2 linked regions of the Homo sapiens genome follow. The main gene of each other region encodes a partner of the protein of the gene in region 2 in a complex. Each region holds a gene or a part of one and is shown on either strand. Other genes may lie near its edges.

The links. The genes of interacting proteins can lie anywhere in the genome.
Region 1: the proteins of USP19 (region 2) and SIAH1 are in contact, whole or in part, in a crystal structure (PDB 4X3G), measured with the Homo sapiens proteins. Residues at the interface, in NP_006668.1 of Homo sapiens: Lys463, Pro464, Thr465, Cys466, Met467, Val468, Pro469, Pro470, Met471; in NP_003022.3 of Homo sapiens: Cys130, Pro131, Thr156, Leu158, Gln159, Asp162, Ile163, Val164, Phe165, Leu166, Ala167, Thr168, Leu172, Val176, Asp177, Trp178, Val179, Met180, Asn276.

What each region holds. Positions count from the first base shown.
Region 1 is NC_000016.10:48,382,408-48,389,311, forward strand, and holds the start of SIAH1 (E3 ubiquitin-protein ligase SIAH1), read right to left. Parts: upstream 3,007-6,904; 5' UTR 2,797-3,006; intron 2,463-2,796; exon of another isoform or gene 2,369-2,462; intron 1-2,368. UniProt on the Homo sapiens protein: E3 ubiquitin-protein ligase that mediates ubiquitination and subsequent proteasomal degradation of target proteins.
Region 2 is NC_000003.12:49,117,808-49,125,140, forward strand, and holds the start of USP19 (ubiquitin carboxyl-terminal hydrolase 19), read right to left. Parts: upstream 3,017-7,333; 5' UTR 2,949-3,016; exon of another isoform or gene 2,661-2,948; intron 1,475-2,660; 5' UTR 1,339-1,474; coding exon 1,215-1,338; intron 314-1,214; coding exon 140-313; intron 24-139; coding exon 1-23. Other genes in the region: LAMB2 (laminin subunit beta-2 precursor), read right to left, coding at 3,419-3,555, 3,626-3,785, 3,877-4,053, 4,137-4,278, 4,356-4,563, 4,897-5,245, 5,325-5,566, 5,640-5,824 and 5 more. UniProt on the Homo sapiens protein: Deubiquitinating enzyme that regulates the degradation of various proteins by removing ubiquitin moieties, thereby preventing their proteasomal degradation. Stabilizes RNF123, which promotes CDKN1B degradation and contributes to cell proliferation.

The DNA of each region.
Region 1 (6,904 bases), on a different chromosome or scaffold from region 2:
ATCTGAATGTCATTAGAATACGCACAGTAGTAGGTGAGTAAACAAATACCTACTGAGCACTAGGTACTGAGGATATATATTAAAAACACAATTCTTGCCCTTATGCAGCAGATATTCTAGTAACTATAGCCATGGGAACTAAATCATTTAAAGTGCATTAGACATCCTGCTATTTTGAAGAATACTATTAAGGATACTTATTGTAAAAAGGAAAATTTCCTTTTTTGGCGGGGGGATGGAAGGTTCTGGGGATTTCATACAGATTTTGTTGAAAGAGAGGGCTGTACAAAAAATATCTAGATTTTAACATTTCACAAAGCGAATATGGAAATTCCACAAAATTCTGTTAATAAATCTCTTTAAACAAAGAACCTCCAATCTTTAAAAATTTTGTAAATCAACTGCTTAAAAATACAATTTAAGCAGTCACCTAAAACTCTGTAAATTACTAAACTTTGTTACCCTAGTTATGTAAGATCTGTTTTCAAAACACCATACTCACTGAAAATCCTATTTGTTATTTTATGTCATTACTGACATAGCTAGATAATTCCTTCATAACTCCAATTTAACCTAATCATGCTTTTTAATTACAGATATTAAGAAAGAATATTTCTCTACAGCAATTTCGTAAGAACTTCCCGAAGCTTAGAGGGAATAGATTAATATTTAACAGATGTAAAATGCATTAACATTGTTTCTGAATTTGTACTTTGTGGAATACTTATCCTGAAAAGTTATCAGTTTCACATCTATTATACGTATTTCAGTTTAAAATATTAAATGTTAGTAAATTATGTTGGAAAGATGCCAATAACGAAAAAAAAACTGTTTGGCATAAACTTTGGGGAACAAATTCTGGATATAATCGCAACTAACCATCCAAGATTACAGAAATCTGTATCTTTATTTAAATTTTCAGAATGAAACACTACACAACCAATTTGTGTAATCTACTTTGAGTCTCAAGATCTACCAGTCTAAAGTCCTCCTAACAACTAATTAAAATCCTCTCCACCATAATTTGAGCCAACAACTCCCAGATAAAATTACCAGACCATTACATTTGCCACCACACTACATTCTGCTCTTCAGTAACTTCTAAAAGTGATGGTAACACCATAGATACACACTCAAGTATTCACTGTCCCACTTTTCTAAGTTGGTTAACTCAAGTCCTTGAAAGTGAACTGATCAATAAATCTAAACTAGCTAAGAGAAGACCTCATTTTAATCAATTTGATTTTTTTTAATCACAAAGATATAGCCATTCAAATCCCCGGCCACAGCAATTTCCAAAATGCCACCATCTCAGAAAGTCTGTTAATTTATCATACAAATCTCCTTGTCCTTTTTAACAACAAAATGCATTGAAAGAAAAAACCCAGCACTAAAGATCTGTGACCTGATTTCACAAATTCTGGTCTATGCACTTTCATCATACCAACACATCATGCCAAGAAAACCTCGTAAGTTTAGCTATTAAACTACAGTCTTAACAGTAAGCATTTGTTGAGAACTTAGTATGGGGCTGCCACTGCTTTCAGTCCACCTATTGTCATCTCATCAATTCTCAACAGGGCTTGAGGTAGATACTGTCGTTACACCCATTTTGCAGATAAGGAAAGCGAAGCACAGAGAAGTATCTGCCCAAGGTCACAAACCAGTGGAGCAGGATTTGACCCAAAGCAGACAGTCGGACTTCACAGCCCGTGCTCTCAACATCCAACTGCTGAAGAGTTAACAATTTACCCTTGACAGCCGCTATAAGCAAAGGTAAATGCTCAACTGCTAGGAAGGGACAGTCAGAACACCGTCCCATATCCAGTATCCATGTCTCTCTGTTTGTTTATGGCCTCTATGACTTTGGCAAAAGAAGTACACACAATCTGATTTTCCGAACACCCAAGCTGGACTTTTCTGAATGTCCGAGCAAACAAATTATGTATCTTTCCAGGAACGGGCAGACAGCGAAAACGAACCTACGCATCGGAGTGGCCCAGGTTATTCACTTTAAGTTATAAATTTGGGAGAGTTAAGAAAGGACCCCAAACTACCCGGCAAATGAACCCTAGGAAATGCCAGGTTTATAATAAGCTAGAGCTTCCCCGGCACGCCGTTCACGCGCTCTCCTCTCTAACGACATAAACAAGGGAGGAGGCTGCATTCTTCCCACTGCACAATGAAGCCTCCGGCCGAAGCGGCAGGAAGAGCGCAGCCCCGTCCCGGACGGCTCCAGCCGGGGGTCGGGGGCAGAGAGCGGAGGCCGAGGCCCGCCGAGCGGCGCGGTGCGGCCCGGGCCTCCGGGCGCCGCGGGGAGGAGGGGGAGGGAGGGCAGGGCCCCGGCAGCTGCCCGCACTCAGCTGACCTCCGCCATGTTGGCCGCACACCCCGGGACCCTCCACAACAAAGGCCGGCACGAGGGCGCGGGGCGCGCCGGGCGCCACCCCCGGCCGGGCCCGCCTCCCGGGCGCGCGGGGGCCGGGCCGCCGCCGAGGCCCTTCCCCCGCCCTCGGCCCGGCCGCGCGGGGCCGACCCCCGCCGCCACCCCGCCGGGCCCGGGGCTCCAGGGGCGGGGGCGAGCCGGCTTGCGAAGGCTGAAGGCAGGGGAGGGGCGGGGGGCGGCGCTCGACCGGGCGGCCCGACTCCGGCCGAGACAAAGGCGCCGCCGCGCCGACTACTGCCCGCGCCCCGGCCGGGCCGCCCTTCCCGCCCTCCGCCATTACCGGGCCTGGGCGCCCGCCTGTCGGAGAGCCCCTCGCCGCCGGCTCCTCCCTCAGGCCGGGCCCCACTTACCTGTGGGCGGAGAGCGCGCCTCGGACCCCGGTCCTGGCACCAACGCGCTCCGTCGCCAACCCCCGCCACCGCGGGCAGCGCCACCGCCTCTTCCCGGCGCCGAGACCGACGGGACACCCTGGGCCGCCGCCGCCTCTCGAGAGCGCGCCCCGCAACGGCCGCCCCGGCTCCCCCCTGGCCGCCGCCGCCGCCGCCGTTTCGCGCGTCCTCGAGCCCGCCGCGCGCCCCCGCTAAATACCACACACTGCGGCGGCGGCCATGAGGAGGCGCGGCCCCGCGCGCTGGGAGCCTGGGGGGGCGGGGCTTTCGCGGGCGCGCAGGCGCACAGGCGTTGGCGCGGCCGGCGGCGGCCTCCGCGGGCGTAGCTGTGCGGGTCTCCAAAGGCGGCAGTAGGTGCGGGGGCTACTCGGCTACCGTTGCTGCGCCCGTGCACCGCGCATTCAACGGATCCTGGCACGTGGCGCTCTGGCCCGCGAGAAGCTAGCGCTTGCCCGTCGGCTCAGGGCAGCTCCTCCCGCGGCGCTTTGTTCCGGGGCCGCGTGACCCCCCCGGCTCCGGCCGGAGGGGTCGCCCAGCGGGATGCGAGCCCCAGGCTGGCCGCCGCCGCGGCCTTGTGCCCTCCCCCTTGTTTTGTCTGCTGATTTAGCCCAGCGCCTCCACGGATCCTTCCCAACTCCACTCAGTCCCAAAGAAAAAGCGGCTGCCCTGCCCGCCGACCGGGACCCCACCCCTAAAGAGAGTCCCAGCCTCTCCCGAGGTTGAGCCGCTCCTCAGCAACAGCGGGACGAGCTTCAAAAGCTTGTTTCAGCTGAAAAGTGGGTAATGGGGAAGCACGCGTTTTCCTGTGTCCATGCTCATCTGGAAAGTCCCTAATTAGGGACTCTGCATTCCACTTCTTGAAATAATAAAAGGAAAACATCACTTGCAATTCTTTGATGGGTGCTATGAGCAGAAGCAAGCATCTGAGACATTTACAAGCCCTAACTGGAATTCCATGTAAGATCTATTAAAATGGTATTCCGTCCGGACGCGGTGGCTCACGCCTGTAATCCCAGCACTTAGGGAGGCCGAGGCCGATGGATTACCTGAGGTCAGGAGTTCGAGAGTAGCCTGGCCAACATGGTGAAACCCTATCTCTACTAAAAATACAAAAATTAGCCGGGCGTGGTGGTGCACGCCTGTAGTCCCAGCTACTCGGAGGCTGAGGCAGGAGAATCGCTTGAACCCGGGAGGCAGAGGTTGCAGTGAGGCAGAGATCAGGCCATTGCACTCCAGCCTGGACAACAGAGCGAGACTCTGTCTCAAAAAAATAAAAATAAAAATAGAAAAATCCCATACCGGGCACGTATGTACAAATTCCCAGTGTATGATAAAGTTTATATGTGCAAAACACTAGTTTACAGTATTCCTAATTACATGATTTAAACTGCAATTTTACTTTCACATTTTTGGGGAGAAGTTATAGCTCCTCAGTACACGGGAAGGTCAATAGAGTTCGGTTCACTTCAGTTTAGAGGTAAATTTTCCATTTTTACAGACTATGTGCTTGGCATAGCCATGTGGCCTTGACCTGGTCGTGAAGGGCAGAGGAGTTCTGTCCTGGGCGAGGAGCAGCTCTGGGGTGAGATGTGTTTCTCGCCCCCAGAACCCCTGGGCCGCTCTGCAAGCAGTGAAATGGATACGGACTAAGAGAGAACTTGCCAACGTGGCGATTAAAGTTCTAAACACCCGGCTTTGCCAAAGTCAGATTTTGTCCTCCTTATCCCGCATCCCTTCCTCTACCCAACAGCATTTGTCCATCTGAAAATAACAGTCTGTCTCTGGCCCACTGCTGACAGTCGAGGACTTACCTTATAAACTAGTGGATTCTCTTAAACTGCAGGGGTGCCCAGGACACAGTGTCCCCTGAGGATGCCGCACACCAGTCTTGAAGTGCTGGATCGTTGACGTCAGGCACCCAGAAGCAACTTCTGCCTCTGGAATTCTCAAACGTGCTTTTCTTGGCTTAGTTTGTGCCTGCTCTCCTCTAGAAGAGTCCAAGTTACTTCTTACTTTCCCCACTTCCCTTTTATACAAAACAAATTTAATCGGGTTAATTCCATCTCTGAGAATTCCTACCTAGATTTGGGCGGGGCTCAATCTGATTTGGTTAATTCTGGGTGGTAGCTATGGGTGGGACATAAACATCACCATTATAAATTTAATTTACTCCCCCTCTCAAAAAAATGTACCTTCCATTTGAAAGAAAATAGCTCCACTGTGGGGGTAACTAAGCACCTTTTCTGAACAGGGAGTTGACTCTGCTTCCTTGACAGTTTATCCATAGAAAAGCATTTTGTAAACTGTAAAGCCTATCCAAATAATCCTCCAATTGATGGGATTTCAGTAACGGTGACAAATATTTTCAGGCCACATCTGGATAGGGAGCCTTCCTGGTCCCCTCAAATCACATCAAATGGTAATTCCATCTATTGCAATGGAACATAACGCTCTGGTCCTGCATCTGGCCCGTAGTTAAGGTACCAGTGATGTAAATTACTTTCCTCTTATGAATAAAACAGGCACTGGCCAGGCACGGTGGCTCACACCTGTAATCCCAGCACTTTGGGAGGCCAAGGCAAGAGGATCGCTTGAGGCCCAGAAGTTCCAGACCAACCTAAGAACATAGCAAGACCCCGTCCCTATAAAAAGTTTAAAAATTAGCCCGGCAGGGTGGTGTGCGCCTGTAATCTCATCTAATCAGGAGGCCAAAATGAGAGGATTGCTTGAACCTGGGAATTTGAGGCCATAGTGAGCTATGATTGTGCCCCTGCACTCCCATCTGGGTGACAGAGGGACACTCCATCTCTAAAAACATAAAAATAAATGAATAAATAAAACAGGCACTGATGAGAGTATCTTTATTTGGGGGTTTTGCTATGAATTTATATTAAATTGATATTTATTTATTTATTTATTTTGTAATCTCGGCTCACTGCAACCTCCATCTCCTGGGTTCAAGCGATTCTTGTGCCTCAGCCTCTCAGATAATGCTGTCAAAGTTGGCTAAACTAGTTAAGACTGAACAGATGATTTCCAAGTGTCTTCATGTCAATATAGTTATTTTACAATAGACCAGTTCACAAGACCAAACCCATCTATTGAATCACCGATGGGCTGTGTTTGTTTCCAGGCAATCACAGATGTCTCTTGCCCAGGAAACTATAGCTATCTCCTCTTACATTAAACCACTGATACCCATTTGTCATTCAGCTTAGGTGGATAGGTCTGGAAACATATTAGCATTCCCTTCCAAGCCTGGCTCTGCTGGTAGCGAAACAGAATCTTTTTCAGCCTGGAAACTGGAAGGCGGTTCCTCCCTCCCAAATAGACTCCTATAAGCTTTGCAAAGGAAAGCAGGTCCCCAACTTGTCAGACATGCCTACAGCAGAGCAGAAACAATGTTTTCTTTATCAGACACACCTGTTGCCAGTCACTGTCTGAGGTTGGTGAATGTGTTAAACAGTATCCCAAACAAATTTTCCTGGACATGGTGGAGAAGTTAGAGACACAACATGAGCATCCAAGAATGAAACAGGAAGTAGCTGAAGGAAGTTCCCAAAAGCCCAAGTGGTTGGGAAATGAGTTCGCCCATAACTGTAGTTTTCCTTCAATATAATCAAGTTTCTTTAGGAAAAAGGTTACATGCTAGGCATCACATTTTTCAAGAAGTTAGAGCCGGGCACGGTGGCTCACGCCTGTAATCCCAGCACTTTAGGAGGCCAATGCCTGCAGATCACCTGAGGTCAGGATTTGGAGACCAGCCTGGCCAACATGGTGAAACTTCGTCTCTACTAAAACTACAAAAATTAGCCAGGTGTGGTGGTGGATGCCTGTAATCTCAGCTACTCGGGAGGCTGAGGCAGGACAATCACTTGAACCCAGGAGGTGGAGGTTGCAGTGAGCAGAGATCACACCACTGCACTCCAGCCTGGGCAACAGAGCAAGATCCTTGTATCAAAAAAAAAAATTAGAAAATCATTGAGGTTTTTATGTAGCTGGTGGAAGTAGGTGATACTGACAATTAGTTTAAGTAATTGTTGTTCTTGAGTTCATTGGAATGCAGTGA
Region 2 (7,333 bases):
ATCATGAGGGTCTTCACAAGCTCCTGATGGTGATAAGCAGGTAACAGAGACCCAGCCTAATGAAACTGCTTCAGATGGGAGCCAAATTGCAAGTGCCCCCTCCCCTTCCCTAGCAACAAAAAGCCCATTCGTTACTGACCCTCTTTGGTCTGCTCCTCTTGAGGAGTGGATGCTGACCCTGACGATGAAGGAAAGAACAGCCGGGTACGGTGGCGTGAGCCTGTGATCCCAGCTGCATGGGAGGCTGAGGCAGAAGGATCACCTGAGGCCAGAGGTTCAAGACCAGCCTGGGCAACATATCGAGACCCTGTCTCTAAAAAAAAAATAAGAAAAATTAGTCAAGCATGGTGAGGAGGCTGAGGTAGGAGGACTGCTTGAGCCCAGGACTTTGAGGATGCAGTAAGCTACGATCACACCTGCACTGCACTCCAATCTGTGCAAGAGTGAGACCCTGCCTTTAAAAAAAAAAAAAAAAAAGGGACAGGCACGGTGGTTCACGCCTGCAATCCCAGCACTTTGAGAGGCCGAGGTGGGTGGATCACCTGAGGTCAGGAGTTTGTGACCAGTCTGGCCAACATGGTGAAACCCCGTCTCTACTAAAAATACAAAAATTAGCTGAGTGTGGTGGTGCATACCTGTAATCCCAGCTACTTGGGAGGCTGAGGCTACTTGGGAGGCTGAGGCAGCAGAATCACTTGAACCCGGGAGGCAGAGCCCGCAGTGAGCCAAGACGCCACTACACTCTAGCCTGGATGACAGAGTGAGACATTGTCTCAAAAAAAAAAAAAAAATTAGCCTTGCGTGGTGGCATGCACCTGTAATCCCAGCTACTTGGGAGGCTGAGGCAGGACAATCACCTGAACCAGGAGGTGGACGTTGCAGTGAGCCAATATTGCACCACTGCACTCCAGCCTGGGCTACAGAATGAGACTCCATCTCAAAAAAAAAAGGAAAAAAAGAACAGGTTCAAAAAAAAGAAAAAAGTTTAAAAAGGAAAGAAGGCAAGCCCCCCAACAGCACCATCTTCTGGATCTTAGCCAAGTACTCAGGCTTCAAAGCTGAGGCTCTACTGAGGTTATCATGGGTCCTTCTTCTCTCATCATCAAACCAGGACAGAGAGAAGAACAAGAAAGTCATCTCCCAAACCCCAATCTGTATACCAATAAGATGGGAGGCAGAGAAGGCCACAATTACTCTGGGAATGCCACTCCCACCTTTCCTAGGATCTCCATCCTTGCTCTCCTGGTTTGCTCGATCCTTCTGCTTCTTCTTACTAGTGGTGTCCTCCAGTCCTGGGGGCCCTCTCCTTGGGCCTGTGGCACTGGCCCCGCCAGACATCTTGAGCCGCTTGGTCGACAGCCAGAGTGCCCCGGGGTCGGCAACAGCGTCTGGGTCAGGGCTGCGGCGCTTTCTTCCTGGCCCAGCTATCTTGGCAACTCTTTGTGGCCAAATTCTCCAGCAAGGAACGGACAGCCTAATGGAAAGAAGCCAGTGATCACTGCCAAGACCCAACAACTTGCTCTTTAGCTACACCCAGGGCTCAGCAACACAGGACACTAATGCTACAGAGCTGTATCTTCTCATCTCTTAAGTACCCCTGGACACTCTCAGGATATTCTGAAGAGGTAATAAATAATGCAAGTAGCAGCAACCACTTCTGGCCAAGCCTCATAGATACCCACCATAACAGTCCCACACAGGTGAAAGCCTCACTGAGGGGGCACCAGGTCAAGGAAGTCATGGCCTGGGACCAGGCTACTCCACCAATCTGGAGAGGAGCCACGGCTCCAGCCCACAGGGCTGGCACTCCGAGCAGGGTGCTCACTTTTCCTTCACTCTCACTGGCTGCTTAGTCACCACTGGAGAAATAGAAGGTGGAGGAGGAAGGCAGGACAGGAGACAAGCCGCAGGAGAACCAGGCTCTGTGGCTGTAAACAGGCTCAACCCAGGTTCTACCATTGCCCAGAAAAAGTCCTGGGGCTAAGGCACTCCACCTGCCTCCTGCCAGCTCCCACCCTTGGCAAGAACCTGCTCCTATGTACTGCTTGGTCCTTCTTCATTTCAAGAGAAAGTCCTCTCCCCAGCTGCTGTCCCAAGCAGAAAGGGACTGAAAAGTGTATCTAGATGTCACGCTACCTCTTCAGCAGCAACCCTGCTCCAGTACTAAGGCAGGATGGGCATCCAGTTTGAGACTGGAACAGAAATTATCACCTTCCTTCCCAGATGCCTTCACTCATGAGCTCTGAGCCACAAGGACCACTACAGTTTCCCACAGACCCACCAGTGGATTCTGGACTGTTTCCTCCTCCAAAATGAAGGTCTTGAAACTAGATACTGAGATGAGGCTGGGGAGGACCACAGATCCAGGACTCCTGGCAGCCTCAAGCCTGGCCTGAACCAGTAGCAGGACAGATAATGACTAGTCTGTGTTCCCCTAAGTGTGTAAAGGAGGAAGGAGGGATGGCAGGATACCCTTCTACAGGTCAGATGTGGTACTGGTGGGCTGGATCTTTAATGACACCTGCCACCGGCGCCTCCTTCTTGCACCCAGGCCCCAGCCGAAGGTCGCGTCCCTCCCCCATGCCCCAGGGACGTCGAGGCGGGTAAGGGGCTGTTTAGAGACCCGAGCCGGCCTGAAATGGCAGCGCGGGGTTACTGACCACAGATCAGCGCCCCGGTCGAGCTGCGACCCAGCTTCAGCCTCTGAACCCCGAGCCCGCCACCACCTCTCCCACGAAGTTGCCCTCGCTGGCCGCCAGTCCTCTCCCAGGTGGGAGGCTGGCCACAGGCATAGCGTAACGGCCCTGCCGGCATCAGTGGGCTGGCACGCTGCGGGGCACTAGGGGTAGGGACTGGCACGGCCCGTGACCTTGAACAGGCCGCCGCGGCCGCGCGTTGCGGCCTCCCCGCTGCGGCCAAGCCAGCGAGTTGCAGCCTGCTCCACTCACCGAGCGAGACCGCCGCAGCCAGCCCTCTTCGGGCCCTGGCAACCCGCTCTCCGTTCCGGTTCCGGCGCAGGTCGGTTCCGGTTCCGGCGCGCCCCTCCCCCGTCCCGGCGCCGCCGCCACCGCCTTAGCGGCTTGTTTTGTTTCGACTTCTAGCTAAGGCCGAGGGAGGCGGAGCGCCAAGCTGGTGACGCACTTCCGGCGGGAATGGGCTCGGAGCGACCCGCAGCTCCGGGGCGGGCCCGAGCGGAAGGAGGCGGTGCTCGGGTGGCTTAGCGGTGCATGGGTTCTGCTGGGGGCAACCTCGAGGTTCCCCTGGAGACTCCCCCGCCCGCCCCAAATCAGAGTCCAGACAACACAGTGGGGGTTCACACTGGTTTATTGGGGGCCCTGCCGGGCCAAGAGCTCTTCAGTGCATAGGCAGACATGCATGTGGGGCAGTGCTAGGAACTGGGGTAGGCCTTGGGCAGGGGTCACTGGCAGGTGTTGTAGATCTGCACCTGCAAGTTGATGGCTTGAAGCACGCTGCGCATCCTGGCCTCCAACCCGTCCAACTGGGCTGCCTTACTCTCCAGTGCCCGCTCATTTTCCTCATAGGTGCCTTCCAATTCTAGGAAGGGCAGGTGTCAGTTTAGGGGGGGTTTCCCGCAGTCTTGTGTCTCTGGTGCCCCATTTCTTACCCTGTAGCCGCTGCAGCTTGTCCTGAGCGGCTTGCAACAGGTCCCGAGCCTCATCCCGCAGTTGTTCTGCCCTTGCCTGTGCAGCCAGCACACCTTGGGCCTTGCGCTCAGCTAGGGCCTTCACCGTCTGGTACTGATCACCCAGAGGACCGCGTAGCAGCTGCAGATGTAGAGGGTTAGGTTAGCGTGGTAGCTCAGTGGAGGCCCATCTTCCACCCCTACCTTCTCCAGCTGGCTCTGCCTCAACCCACCTGCTCAGCCTCCTGGGCACGACCCTGGGCACTGCCTGCCGTTTCTTCTGCTGTAGAGGCTGCCAGACTATTTCCTGCCCGTTTCAATTTCAGAGCCTCCAGGAGAGCATCCAACTGCCGAGCCCTTTCACCTGCAGAGCTCAGTGCCCGCTCTGCACCTGCCATCCTCTCCTGTACCTGCCATGGGTGAGCCAAAGGTTACACAGATCTACGGTTCATGCCCATAACCTTGTCCCACTGATGTCCTAGGAAGACCTCACCTGGTACAGGGTCTGCTCTGTGTCCCGTGTGTCAGCCACTGCCCCCCGGATGGCACCCTGGGCAATACCCTGTGCCCGCTGGGCCTCCTCCAGTGCTGCCTGTACTGTCTCTGCCTTCTGTTTCTCATCCTCAGCCCAGCTCCTGGGGAGAAGGGGGAATCAGAACCTGGAGGTATCAAAACCAGGTGTCAGGGATAGGGGCCAGGGATGGGGTCAGACCTTGCCCGCCGTGCATCCTGCAGTAGCTGCTCGGCACGACGCACATCTCCTACAGTACGTGCCAGGATCGCATCCACATCTGCCAGGCTCCGGACTCGCTCTGCAATCGCACCCGCCAGGTGCTGGATCTGCTCAGCTGAAGCTGGGATGGAGAGCTCTAGCACCCGTGTGGCCACCATTTCAATGCTATCAGGATCAGCCCCCTCCTCTATAGGGACACAGCAAGAACTTAAGAACATAGATTCTCCAGCATGGGCATGAGGATACAGTTTTGGGGTATGGACTCAGGACATGTACATGGGATAGGGGTTTGTTACCAGGCATAAGGATATAATCACAAGGACAGGGACTATACAAGGGGCTCAGACTCAAGAACATGGACCTGGGACCACATATGGGCAATAACTCAGGAGCCAGTCAAGGGATCATAAACACTAATCCAGTGTAGTCCCTGAGGCTCAAGTATGAACCAAGGGAGATACAGACACCGGGAGTTGCCAAAGGGGACAACCACATGGCCTGGGACACGTGGGAGGCTCACGGTTGAGGAAGTCCTTCACACTCTGGATAAGTTCTTGAAGTTCCTGGTTGGCCTGTTCCACCTGTCCCCTGGAAGCATTAGCCTTGTCCAGGGCTGCCTGGGCCCGCTGCTGTGCCTCGCTTGCCTGCCGACGAGTCTCAGCCACTCTGCTGAGGATGCTACCACCTTCTGCCAGTGCCCGCTGCAGCTCTGCCTGTGTGTGCCGGGCCCGGCCCAGTGCTAGGTCTGCTGTAGCCGCTGCCCCATTGCAGCTGAGGCCCCCACAGCGCGGCTGCCCATCCTCATCTCGACAGCCGGCACCCCCACAAGGGCTTGTAGCACAGGGTGCATCCCCTGGTGCCCCACACACCTGCCAGGCACAGAACAAGTCAGGGCCCTGTGAGAGGAACATCTACACCCACCTGCCCCACCCAACACTTCAACCTCACCAGCTCATTTATGTCTGTCAGGCTCAGGGTGTGGGTATGGGCAGAGAGCTTGCCAAGTGCCCGCTGGTTGGCCATGTGTTTGCTGTTGAAGTCCTCCTTCTGAGCATCCATCAGTGCCTCTGTCCGATGCCGAGCACTTGCCGAGTTGCTCACAGGGCTAGGTACTGCCAGGGCTGAGGTATTGGCACGACGTTCTGCCTCTGCAGACTGGCTATGGGCATGCCGGATGCTGTCATAGGCACCTAAATTGGGCAGAGGCAGACAGTCAGCTGAAGACTGACCCTGGTCCACCTGCCTAGTTGGCTAACAACTCACCCAGGAAGTTTGAATGTTTGAGCAAGTCAAGATGCTGGTCGAGCTGCCGCAGTGTGAGATTAAGTGCAAGCCTATCTCGCTCCAGACCACTTAGTGCATGGTTGGCATTGAAGTTCTCATCTTGCACATCTGTCAGGTCTGCCTCGAGCTGAGTCAGGTGCTCAGTGGCCTCCCCAATTTCACGCCTGCAATGATGGAGAGGGGGGTGTTTAGAGAGGCTTCAGCCCTGGTCCACTGGGCCTCTGCCCCATCCCACCATGTATTCTTAGGCCCTTCCGCACCGCAGCTCCTCTGTGGCCTCCACAAGCTGTGCAGTGGAGGCGGCTGAGGTGTTGCGGGCACCTACGATGCCCTGCACAATGCCCAGCTTCTCCTGCATGTGCCAGAAGCTGCTCTCAAAGGCACCCAGCACACCCGTCTGTTGCAACTCCTGCGCCCGCTGCTCTAGGCGCTGTGTACGGGCTGCCAAGTCCTGCACCACTCGGTCCCAATCCCCGAAGCATGCATGGCAGGGATGGCAGGCAGGAAAGATTCCTGAGAAGCCACGGGCACACTGGTCACAGCGCACACCAGACACCCCTGGGCGGCAGCTGCAGTGACCTGTGAAGCGGTGACACTGAGGTGTATCTATTCCACGAGAGTCACAATCACAGGCTGCAAGAAAGAGCAGAGCACAGAGTTAGGGTCACTGTGGGGCATTCTGGGAAGTCCTCCATCTACCCTGGCCCCGCTGGCTCCCTCACCATGGCACTGCAACCCAGGGTCTCCCCAGTGGAGCTCTTGGCACTCAGAACAAGTCCGCCCTCCAAAGCCGGCACGGCAGTGGCACTGCCCTGTGAACTGGGGTGGGAACAAGGCAGGGTCAGAGCCTCTATAAGAGGCTAAGCCCTGGAGATAAGACAGACACCTGGCCCCATCTAACCAGGGATCTGCAGGAGGGTCCCATACCTCGTTGCAGGTGGGGCCTCTGGCCCGGCTTGGGTGGCAGGCACAAGGCTGGCAACCATGGCCACTGGTGAGGTTCCAGAAGTTGGGGGCACAGCGGTCACAGCTAGGGCCCTGGACATTGGGGAGGCATGGGCACTGCCCACTGCTTGGATCACAGTGGCACTGGTCAGGAGATGGGCACTGCTGCGGATTTGTGCCCAGCAGGTTGCATGTGCAGCCTGTGCCAACCAAGATGAGCACAGTAGTCAAGAGGAGGCCAAGAAGCAGAACCCCAATTCAGCCATGCCCTCCCACACTCATACTCACGGTGACAGCTCTGTCGGGCAGCCTGCCCATGGAAGCCAGGCTTGCAGTGGGCACAGTGTGGACCCTCTGTGTGGTGTAAACAGCGCAGGCATTGCCCCGTGTGGGGGTCACAGGCATCAGGATCCATTGGGTCAATGTTCCCACTGCACTCACACAGTTGGCACCGGCCACCTGGCCTTGATGGGTCCCCAAAGTGCCCAGGGGCACAAGCTTCACATCGCAGCCCTGCCCACGGTTAAGAGGAAGCTGTGAGTGCTCAGCCCAGCCAACTCACCCTGATCCCACGCCTGCCCCCATCCACTCACCCGTATAGCCTGCCCGGCAGTGGCACACAATCTGCTGGGAATATTCATCCTGGTGGCAAGAAGTAGCAAAGTGCCGTTGGCTCCCAGGGCCTTCAGGACAGGGACAGGGCCGGCACTGGCCCCCATATGGCAGCC